3 linked regions of the Homo sapiens genome follow. The protein of the gene in region 1 purifies or fractionates together with the protein of each later gene. This does not show direct contact. Each region holds a gene or a part of one and is shown in the gene's direction. Other genes may lie near its edges.

Region 1 (3,500 bases):
AGTGAGCCATGATTGCACCACAGCACTCCAGCCTGGGTGACAGAATGAGACTCTGTCTGAAACTAAGAGGAGAAAAAAAGGAGAGAAGGAATAAAATATTACTTTTTTTTGTTTTTTTGAGACAGATTCTCACTCTGTCGCTCAGGCTGGAGTGCAGTGGCGTGATCTCGGCTCACTGCAACCTCCACCTCCCAGGTTCAAGTGATTCTCCTGCCTCAGCCTCATGAGTAGCTGGGGTTACAGGCACCCACCACCACACCCGGCTAATTTTTGTATTTTTAGTAGAGATGGGGTTTCATCATGTTGGCCAGGCTGGTCTTGAACTTCTGACCTCAGGTGATCCACACACCTCAGCCTTCCAAAGTGGTAGGATTACAGGCGTGAGCCACCGCACCCGGCTGGAATGAAATATAACATTTTTAAAATGTATTAAGCTCCTACTGTGTGCTACTCTTATTCACTCAGGTCCGACCCCTTAGTCCTTTAACTACCTGGGGCTTCCTTTTCTTTTCTTTCTTTTCTTGTAGCAGTGGAGGAAAATGAGGCTGGTTAAGTGAAGTGAGCTCTGAGACCTTGTGTGACTTTGTTTCCATTGTATCCATTTGCATTAAGTGCAGTGAGCTCTGGCGGAAACCACCCTCTGCCCCGTCTGTTGGATCCATTTGCAGAGGCCTTGGCAAGGGCTCGCGTGATCCCCGTCCTGCTCACCCAGGCCTGACCTGCGGAGGGGGCGGAAGCCTGCAGCCAGTGCCTGTCTCCTCCCTCAGGCCACTACTACGTGCCCCTCCTGAGAGCGGAAGAGACTTCTTCTCCAGTCATCGGGGAGCTGTGGTCCCCAGACCAGACGGCTGAGGCCTCTCACGTCAGCCGCTATGGAGGCAGCCCCAGAGACCCGGTACTGACCCTGAGAGCCTTCGCAGGGCCCCTGAGTCCAGCCAAGGTGAGCTGCTGTAGAAGCTTCTGGAAGTGGTGCCTGGCTGTCCCTATACTGTGCTGCTGGGTGTTCCAGCCTGTTGCCTTGTGCGTGGTCTCAGGGACCATGTCCTGTGGAGCCCCAAGGTTGTCCTCATCTCAAACCATCCACCAGTGATTGGTGATGAGAACGTTTGTCAGAGAAATGTGTGTTCTTGGCTCTGTGGCTTGCTTACCAGGGCCGATGTGCTGGGAGCCACTGTCTCAACAAAGCAGACATTCCCTGGGCCAGCCCCGTCCTGTGCGCGTGTCGCCCTGTTCTTGCTGTGTTGATGGCCCGTCCTAGGCACCTTGCTGGTGTAGCGAGGCTGCCCGTTGTGACTAGGAAAGCTCCATCTGCACGTCCACCTCCTGACCACGTTTCCCTGTGGCTGCAGCCCCCGCTGGCTTCCTCTCAGACAAGTCCCTCTCCTGGAAGCCTCAGCCCCAGGTTCTACTCATCCCCAGTGTTCAGAGAAATCCTTAATGGTGGTGTTGCTGGGTCAAAGGTTGTACACTTTTTTATTTACAGTTGACAATTCTTTCTCCTGTTGGAATACTTCACACACTGACCTGCACGCACCATCCTGTGCTAGAAACTTTCTAAATCAGTTGCGATGAAAACGGCTCCAGGCCGGGCGCCGGGACGCATGCCTGAAATCCCAGCACTTTGGGAGGCCGAGGCGGGTGGATCACGAGGTCAGGAGATCGAGACCATCCTGGCTAACACGGTGAAACCCGTCTCTACTAAAAATACAAAAAATTAGCCGGGCGTGGTGGTGGGCGCCTATAGTCCCAGCTACTCGGGAGGCTGAGGCAGGAGAATGGCCTGAACCCCGGAGGTGGAGCTTGCAGTGAGCCGAGATCGTACCACTGCACTCCAGCCTGGGCGACAGAGCGAGACTCCGTCTCCAAAACAAAAAAGAAAATGGCCCCAAAATTAGGTGGTATCAGGTAAGGTTAGGTGAGATGCATAAAGCATAAAGCTCTAGGGAGAGTGACTGAGAAAGATCTGGTTTCTTCTCCTGCGATGGGAGCAGTGTCACATGTGCGTCGGGGTGGCAGCTCCGAGCCGTCCACTGTCCTCAGGGTGAGGCCTCGTGCTCGGGCCCTCCTGGTTCTGAACCTCACAGCCCAGACGGGGCTGCAAGAAAGGAGACCGCCTCCCCTCCCCCAGGTCAGAGTGCAGCCGTGCGGCCACTCAGCCATGCCACAGGTGGGCACGTGGCCCAGGGATCTGCTAGTGAAGGGGAGAGAAGGAAGGGTGTGCGGAGACAGGCAGCTACTGCGATGACGACGGCTCTTCAGGTTTCCGCAGCTGAGGGGCGCAGTGCCTGACACGGCTCAATACATTTTTTTTTCTTCATAGGCAGAAGATTTTCGCAAGCTCTGGAAAACTCCACCTCGAGAGAAAGCAGGCTTCCTTCACCACGTCAAGAAGTCGGACCCGGAAAGAGGCTTTGAGAGAGTGGGAAGGTACTGAAAGGCTGAGCCGCAGCAGCGTGGGGCACACAGTTGGTTGCATTTTGATTAATGACAGAAGGTCAAATCACAGCTTCAAAGTACCAATTTCCAGAAGGCTTTTCTGGGAGACTTGGTCCTTTTCGTGAAGGTCTAATTCCTTGTGGATGTTGTGGAATTCTAGCTTAAGCCAGTCCCGTCCCAGACCTGGGGGATGTCTGCAGTGCCTTCCTTTCCTTTTCTAATTGGAATTCCTTGTTGGTTCTGGGACATGTTTCTAAGGAACCTTAATATTTTATAGAAGGTACCATATAATGCTATGGATTCCTTGGGAAAAAATAGGCCATAGCCACAAAGCTAAATTATGCTGTAATCAAATAAAGCTTCGTGGAATTGTTTAGAATATTTTCTCAAAATATGTGCCCAGTGTCAGGTGTACAACTGGAACCCAGAAAGGACCTCCAGGCTTTCGTGTGCCTGGCCATGACTAGAACCACGGGCAAGTTCACAGGGCTGTTCCGTGATCATGAACACGTCCGTCTGTGGGAGTTGAACTGTGTGACCTGGGTTGCTGGCGTGAGGGTCTGTCGGGCTGAGGCCTCCTTCCTGCCTGCAGCCGGTTCACGGCTCCTGAGAGCTGTGCCGGGTCCTGCTTACCTGTGAGGAGGCGTGCTGTTTCAGAAAATGCACCGTATGATTTCAGCTGCCAGTTAAGGATAAAGGAAAATTATAACCATGATTGCAGACATTGCTTTGGTACTTGAAGCTTTAGTGGCTTTTTTCTGTGTAGTTCTGAGTATTTTTTCTGGTTTCACAGCTGGTTAATTGTGTTTTGTTTCTTACAGGGAGCTAGCTCATGAGCTGGGGTATCCCTGGGTTGAATACTGGGAATTTCTGGGCTGTTTTGTTGATCTGTCTTCCCAGGAAGGCCTGCAAAGACTAGAAGAATATCTCACACAGCAGGAAATAGGCAAAAAGGCTCAACAAGAAACAGGAGAACGGGAAGCCTCCTGCCGAGATAAAGCCACCACGTCTGGTAAGCATGTGCAGGCGTGGCTGTGGCAGCTGGGAGGGGCCCCCCATGGCCG
Region 2 (4,082 bases), on another chromosome or scaffold:
AAGTTAAAAGCATTAGTACAGAAAATGTTTTGAAAAACTGAGATTTGTACTTTGTTTACCTATACTTAAATGTGTTATAAGATTTGTTTTCGGAACAGTGGCACCACATTTCTTTAGAACAGAGGTAGTATATAGAAAATTTCTGCCACTTCAGTGCTCCAAAATTTGATGTATAGTTGAGATTTTTTTCCTTCTAAGAGTAGTAGAGTTCACTTGTACATTATTTCTTTTGTGATAGCAGAAAAATGTACACCTAAATTTTACAGCCCTGTCTTGATAAAGAAAGGAAAAAGAGTACACAGACAATTGAGGTTTGCAGACATGAATCAGATTTATTTTCTGCATGTTTTATAAATAGCTTACATTTTCAGCTGGTCAAGTGTTTTATTCTTGTGAATATATAAAGAGGAAACATTAATATAGATGCATATACTGGAAACAATTGGTGCTGTGTCTATAATATATACAGTTTTTCTCAAGAAGTATGTGTGTGTTTAGATACAAAATCTGTTGACTACACTTTAAAGAAACAAACTAAAGGGAAGAAACTCGAAAATAATTTTGTTGCTTTATTTGCATAGATTCATTTGCAACAATTGATGTAAAGGTTTTAAATTCTTTCTGTGATTTCATTTCAGAAGGTTAGTATAAGAATGCCAATTTGTTTACAGTTAGAAAATGTGTATTTGCCTGGCAGAGCTTTCACCTCTAGAATTCCCTTGTGGGGGAGCCACCAGGTACTCTCTGAAAGACTTTAAACAATATTTTCCTGGTAGTGGTCTCTTGATAAGATAGCTATTAATACTAATGGTATTTAGCAGATTTTAAATATGTTTGGGCAAACAGCACTATAAGAAGTGGAAGTTACTATGCTGACTGTGCTAAAACATAACACTTTTATAAGAATAAGAGAGCATGGGCTGGGCATGGTGGCTCACACCTGTAATCCCAGTACTTTGGGAGGTCGAGGTGGGCAGATCACTTGAGGTCAGGAGTTGGAGACCAGCCTGGCCAATATGGCGAAACCCCAACTCTACTTCTAATTATTAATGAAGTAAAACTACAAAAATCAGCCAGGCATGGTGGCACGTGCCTGTAATACCTTCTATTTGGGAGGTTGAAGCAGGACAATCTCGTGAAACCAGGAGGCAGAGGTTGCAGTGAGCCAAGATCACTCCAGCCTGGGCGACAGAGTGAGACTACGTCTCAAAAAAAAAAAAAAAGAGTGAGCGCATGATGTGATAGAAACTACATTGGGGGTTTGAAGTCAGACAGATCTAGTTCCAGTTCTTCCTCACTGAAACTTAAGCCAAGTTATCTAACTATCTGACGCTCAGTTTAAAAAAAAAATCTGTTGTTGGAGATAGTAAAAATAGACACTTTACAAACATCTCCAATGAGAAGCCTTTCCTGACCACCTGGGTTAAGAAACCCTCTTCTGTGTCATGGTTCGCAGAGTTTATTGTACTTAATCTGTTTTCTTGGCCATGTGGTCACTGGACTGAAAACTCTTTCGTGGGTGGGAATCAGCCTGAATTATTTCCATGAGTCTAGAGTCTGTAACATGGAATTTAGGATATTTTATGTCTTAAATGGTCACTCCTCTTTTACAAAACTTCTGATATCGCTGCTTTCCTGACTTTTTTACATCATGGTATACATTGGCTTATAACCCCTCAGTTGCTGATCCAGACTCATTGATTGCATCTGCATTAGATAATTCTGTGGAAGTGAAGTGCTTGATGCAAAGTGATTGATGTACATAATAAGCTCTTGGTACATTTGTCAGTTGGAGGAATTATTAACATAAGCCTGCTAATTGTGTGTTGGTTTGTTTTTCCAGATGAACAGCAAAGATGTTCAGTATTGTGCTGAAAGAAACATTGATGTGAACCCAGTGATCAGTGGAATTGTCAAGTACAGGTGAGCACTTCTGTGTTCCCAAGAAGACAGCTCATCTGGTTTCTTCCTGCATCTTGGGACACTCCTTCCCTGTCTATACCACTGACTCTTGCTCTGGTTGTTGTACTCTTATACGTGAATAGACTCTTAATTCAGCACCTATAGCCTTTTGTTGTGCTTTTTTGATGTGTCTGCCTTCATTAGACTATGATGTCTTTGAGAGCAAAGACTATTTTTCCTTACTCTTTGCATATTCTGCATCTGAGACACTACTTGAAATATGGTTGGCATCACTGAAGGTTCTTTGATTCAATTAATATTTTGTAATCACCGTGTGGCAAAACATTCCCCTTCCAATCTGGTGCTAGTAGAGTATATGCTATCTAGGCACCATGTGTGTGGCTTTTGTGTATCAGGTGTTTCAGAAATATTTCAAGACAGTTGTAAGATGTTTGAGGACAAGAATTATTACTCCTATTTCTATGTCATACCACACAGTAGCTGCACAGTTTTAAGATTATGCCATCACCTAGGGTAATGTTTTGTAGAATCAGTCCTTCGTGTAACAACTCTAGTGTTTTTGTACTGTTGATGATTTGCTTAAATTTTATTCAAAAACTATCACTTGCTATAAAGGTAATTGTAAAAATAAATACAGTGGACGCAAAATAATGTTGTGAGTTTTTATAAAAATAAATTTTAAAATGATATATAAGACATTTTTTTGCAATGCCTGCCCTAACCACTTCTTACATGTCATCTTAACATCTCTTTGAGGAAACACTGTTTCCTCATTTTACAGATTTAACATACTGTATTATTTGATGCCAGAGCCAACAGGCTATATCATAGGCAGTTTCCAAACTTAATTATGCCATTTAGTTTGTCTAGATTTCTTTTGCCTCTCTCACTGATCCATTTGGCTGTAGTTTTCATCCCTTTTCCAGTACACACAGCTAGCTCCTCATCCTACCTGGTTTCTGCATATGAGAATGCAGAGGGCTGAGAGAGGGCAAAATTGTTGTCATTTAGAAAAGGCATTTAGGAAAGAGGCTGCTATTAGAGGGGAACACAAAGTGAAGGTTTTTTTAAAAAAGAGGACTTGCATCAGCTGCCTCCAGAACAATTTTAAGAAAATAACAAAGATGTTTAGAAGAAATCTTACGGAGTTTGCCATGGGATGTGTGATATCAGCAGTCTTCAGCTCCTTACAAATTACCAAAAGTGGTTCTAATATGCTAGTTTGTTTGATTTTTTCTTTTATATTATAAAGCAATTGCATCGATAAAAGCTTGGACTCCATTTTAGTGTGACACTCTTCCTCATGATACCAGTGAAATGTATTGATTGTGTCCCCAGTTGTTACATAATTTGAAATAAAAATATAACTTCTTGATTTATTGTTTTTTAAGATGTGATATGGTACTGTGGTTATGTTGTTTTAAAAAATGATTATCTTTTAGAGAAGTATACTGAAAAATGTACAGGTGAAATGATATGTTACTGGTATTCGCTTCAAAATCATCTGAGTGTGGGGTAATTGAGTACATAGATGAAACAAGATTGGCCATAAATTGGTAATTGCTGAAGCTGTGTGATGGATGTTTGAGAGTTCATTATACTATTCTCTATACTTTTGTATATGTTTGAAATTTTCCATAATAAAAATTGAAAAAAGTATTCTTCAGAGTTTACTTGTAGGCCCCCTCTCTCCTAGACTTAAGTGCAGAAGGCTGATCAGAAGACAGATCCACAGCCCAGAAAGATTGATTCCTCCTCTCCGAAAACCTAGCTTTTGTTCTTGAGCTAAACTTGTTTGCAGACTGCTCTTCCGTTAGTGTGAATTTTTCCTTGCAAAGCCCCCAGTTCTACATGCCAAAGGACTTTATCCCCTTCAGTATGTCACACATTACCGGAAAACTTTAAACCCTAGTGGTGGACATAAGTTTAGGTTCCAGTTGGGACACTCATTCTACTATTTACCTTTTTAAAAAAGGGCACTGAATTTGTTTTTTCTGACTACAAAATTAATTCATCTCAATTTCAGAAAATTTTTAAAATTCCAAAATAATAAATAAAAAATGAATAAGATCTAGTATTTGATAGCACAACAGGGTGACTATGGTCAATAATTTCATTGTACGTTAAAAAATGACTAAAAGTATAATTGGATTGCATGT
Region 3 (3,500 bases), about 39 Mb from region 1:
CTTGGTGGGAGGTGCCTGTAATCCCAGCTACTTTGGAGGCTGAGGTGGGAGAATCACTTGAACCCGGGAGGCAGAGGTTGCTGTGAGCCAAGACCATGCCACTGCCCTCCAGCCTGGATGATAGGACGAGACTCCATTTCAAAAAAAAAAAAAAGTACAAAAATTAGCCAGGCCTGGTGGTGGGTGCCTGTACTCCCAACTGCTCGGGAAGCTGGAGTGAGAGGATCACTTGAGCCCGGGAAGTGAAGGCTGCAGTCAGCAGAGATTGTGTCACTGCACTCCAACGTGGATGTCCAAGTGAGACCCTGTCTTAGTTATCATCATCATCTCTATGCACACTGGGAATTAAACTTCGTGATAAACCCTATGTGTTTTCGAGGGAGAACTGTTTAAATTTACTTGAAGGTAGTATACTAAGATAATTTTGTGGACACTTTTGTTCAAATTGACTTATTTATTTTTATTTTTTATTTTTTTGAGACAGAGTCTCACTCCATTGCCCAGGCTGAAGTGCAGTGGTGCAGTCTCGGCTCACTGCAACCTTCGCTTCCTGAATTCAAGCAATTCTTGTGCCTCAGCCTCCTGAGTAGCTGGGACTACAGGAATGTGCTACCACACCCAGCTAATTTTTGTATTTTTAGTAGAGATAGGGTTTCACCATGTTGGCCAGGTTGGTCTTGAACCCCTGACCTCAGATGTCCACCCACTTCAGCCTCCCAAAGTGCTGGGATTATAGGCATGAGCCACCACGCTCACCTTGAGTTGATTTTAACTTAAGTGAAGTTCAACCTAAGCTAGCCCACAAATATTCCTTTGTTTCCCCCCCCCCCTTTTTTTTTTCCTTTTTTTGAGACAGAATCTAGCTCTGTTGCCCAGGCTGGAGTGTAGTGGCATGATCTCGGCTCACTGCAACCTCCGCCTCCCAGGTTCAAGTGATTCTCCTGCCACAGCCTCCTAAGTAGCTGGGATTACAGGTGCCTTCCACCACGCCCGGCTAATTTTTTGTATTTTTAGTAGAGATGGGGTTTCACCATGTTGGCCAGGCTGGTCTTGAACTCCTGACCTCAGGTGATCTGCCCACCTCAGCCTCCCAAAGTGCTAGGATTACAGGCATGAGCCACTGCGCCCGGCCAGATATTCATTTAAAAGATGGGTATGTAATACCTGTTACCTGTTAAATAAAATCTAGGATACTTGTCTAAGGTAATAGGGTATTTTTGTAACAATTTGTAGATTTCAGTCTTTTTTTTTTTTTTTTTTCCCCCGAGATGGAGTCTTGCTCTGTTGCCCAGGCTGGAGTGCAGTGGTGCAATCTCTGCTCACTGCTCACTGCAACCTCCGCCTCCCAGGTTCAAGTGATTCTCATGCCTCAGTCTCCCGATTAGCTGGGATTACAGGCATGCACCACCACACCTGGCTAATTTTTGTATTTTTAGTAAAGACGGGGTTTCACCATGTTTTGTCCAGGCTGGTGTGGAACTCCTGACCTCAGGTGATCTGCCCACCTCAGCCTCCCAAAGTGCTAGGATTACAGGCATGAGCCACTGCGCCCGGCCAGATATTCATTTAAAAGATGGGTATGTAATACCTGTTACCTGTTAAATAAAATCTAGGATACTTGTCTAAGGTAATAGGGTATTTTTGTAACAATTTGTAGATTTCAGTCTTTTTTTTTTTTTTTTTTCCCCGAGATGGAGTCTTGCTCTGTTGCCCAGGCTGGAGTGCAGTGGTGCAATCTCTGCTCACTGCTCACTGCAACCTCCGCCTCCCAGGTTCAAGTGATTCTCATGCCTCAGTCTCCCGATTAGCTGGGATTACAGGCATGCACCACCACACCTGGCTAATTTTTGTATTTTTAGTAAAGACGGGGTTTCACCATGTTTTGTCCAGGCTGGTGTGGAACTCCTGACCTCAGGTGATCGCCCACCTCGGCCTCCTAAAGTGCTGGGATTATAGATGTGAGCCACCACGCCCGGCCACATTTCAATCTTAATGCTATTCTTGGTAAGGGGTCCATAGACTTCCAAATTAAGGGCCAGACAAACATTTTAAGTTTTGAGGGCCACACAGTCTCTGTCACAACTGCTTTGACTCTGCTGTTGCATCATTAAAACAACCAGACAATATGTAAAAATGAGTAAGTGACTCGATTCTAATAATTCCATCTGTGGACACTGAAATTTGAATTTCACATAATTTTAAAATGTAAAAATACTTCTGGCTCACAGACTGTACAGGTGGTGAGCTGCAGACTGCCAGTCCTGTTCTAGATCATAAATGATAGCTGCCTGTTAGAAGAATGAAGTGACTTTTGCCTATGTATGCAGGTTTAAAATGTGAAGGATGCTTCTTGCCACCTAATCATAACAGTAACAAGCACTCTGTATCAAGAATCGTCTTTATGTGCATTTCCCTATTTCTTTCTCACACATCTGTTATCTTCTTAGTATTCTTATTTTTTAGGTGAGGAAACAAGGTAACCTACCTATGGTCATTTCCTTAAATTTGGAATATTCCATAACTAAATAAACTTATGTGACCATAGACCTCAGTGCATACAACTCTGGCTAATAAGCCAAGTTTCTGTTTTTTGTTTTTTTGAGATGGAGTCTCTGTCACCCATGCTGGAGTATGGTGGCACGATCTCAGTTCATTGCAACCTCCACCTCCTGGGTTCAAGCGATTCTCCTGCTTCAGCCTCCCAAGTAGCTGGGACTATAGGCGCCCGCCACCATGCCTGGCTAATTTTTTTAGTAGAGACGGGGTTTGGGGTTTCACCATGTTAGCCAGGATGATCTCGATCTCCTGACCTCTTGATCCGCCCGCCTCGGCCTCCCAGAGTGCTGGGATTACAGGCGTGAGCCACCGCGCCCAGCCAAGTTTCTGTTTTTATCCTTTGTTATTATCCAATAATTTGAGAGTTTTACCACCAGTAGTTTATTTCATTAGATAAGGTGATTTGGTAGTGTGACCATGTTAATGTTAATTCTGATTTCAGAAAGATGGTGTTTAACAAAGGTTGTCAATTGCATTTTTGTGGTGTAATGCGTACCCCCTAATTTTAATTAAATTTTAAAATATTTTAATCTAGAATAGAGTTATAACCTTGCAGAGGTTTGAGAATGTTGTTTATATACGAAGTGCTTCTCAGGCTGGAAGTATACAGTTATGGTTCACCTTACAGGTGCTGCTGGTGAGTAGCAGCCGGTACCCAGACCAGTGGATTGTCCCAGGAGGAGGAATGGAACCCGAGGAGGAACCTGGCGGTGCTGCCGTGAGGGAAGTTTATGAGGAGGTGAGATGTTCTTTCACACAAATTCTGTTTCGGAGTTTTAAAAACAAGGCCCTTTGCTACATAACACTAAGACAGCGAGACGGGTCCAGGAGTGCTTTTTGCCTGATGCAACTTTATTTTTAATTTTAATTTTTTTTTTTATTTTTTGAGATGGAGTCTCGCTCTGTTGCCAGGCCTGGAGTACAGTGGAGCGATCTTGGCTCAC

The links. The genes of interacting proteins can lie anywhere in the genome.
Region 2: the proteins of ANKLE2 (region 1) and NUDT11 purify together in Homo sapiens (affinity purification with mass spectrometry; one large-scale study listed by BioGRID and IntAct). This does not show direct contact.
Region 3: the proteins of ANKLE2 (region 1) and NUDT4 purify together in Homo sapiens (affinity purification with mass spectrometry, with the first as the bait; one large-scale study listed by BioGRID). This does not show direct contact.

The regions. Positions count from the first base shown.
Region 1 is NC_000012.12:132,734,333-132,737,832, reverse strand, and holds part of ANKLE2 (ankyrin repeat and LEM domain-containing protein 2), read left to right. Parts: intron 1-612; coding exon of another isoform or gene 613-620; exon of another isoform or gene 621-757; intron 758-767; coding exon 768-940; intron 941-2,320; coding exon 2,321-2,427; intron 2,428-3,257; coding exon 3,258-3,448; intron 3,449-3,500. UniProt on the Homo sapiens protein: Involved in mitotic nuclear envelope reassembly by promoting dephosphorylation of BAF/BANF1 during mitotic exit.
Region 2 is NC_000023.11:51,489,511-51,493,592, reverse strand, and holds the end of NUDT11 (diphosphoinositol polyphosphate phosphohydrolase 3-beta), read left to right. Parts: intron 1-1,843; coding exon 1,844-1,844; 3' UTR 1,845-3,582; downstream 3,583-4,082. UniProt on the Homo sapiens protein: Cleaves a beta-phosphate from the diphosphate groups in PP-InsP5 (diphosphoinositol pentakisphosphate), suggesting that it may play a role in signal transduction.
Region 3 is NC_000012.12:93,391,425-93,394,924, forward strand, and holds part of NUDT4 (diphosphoinositol polyphosphate phosphohydrolase 2), read left to right. Parts: intron 1-3,184; coding exon 3,185-3,295; intron 3,296-3,500. UniProt on the Homo sapiens protein: Cleaves a beta-phosphate from the diphosphate groups in PP-InsP5 (diphosphoinositol pentakisphosphate), PP-InsP4 and [PP]2-InsP4 (bisdiphosphoinositol tetrakisphosphate), suggesting that it may play a role in signal transduction.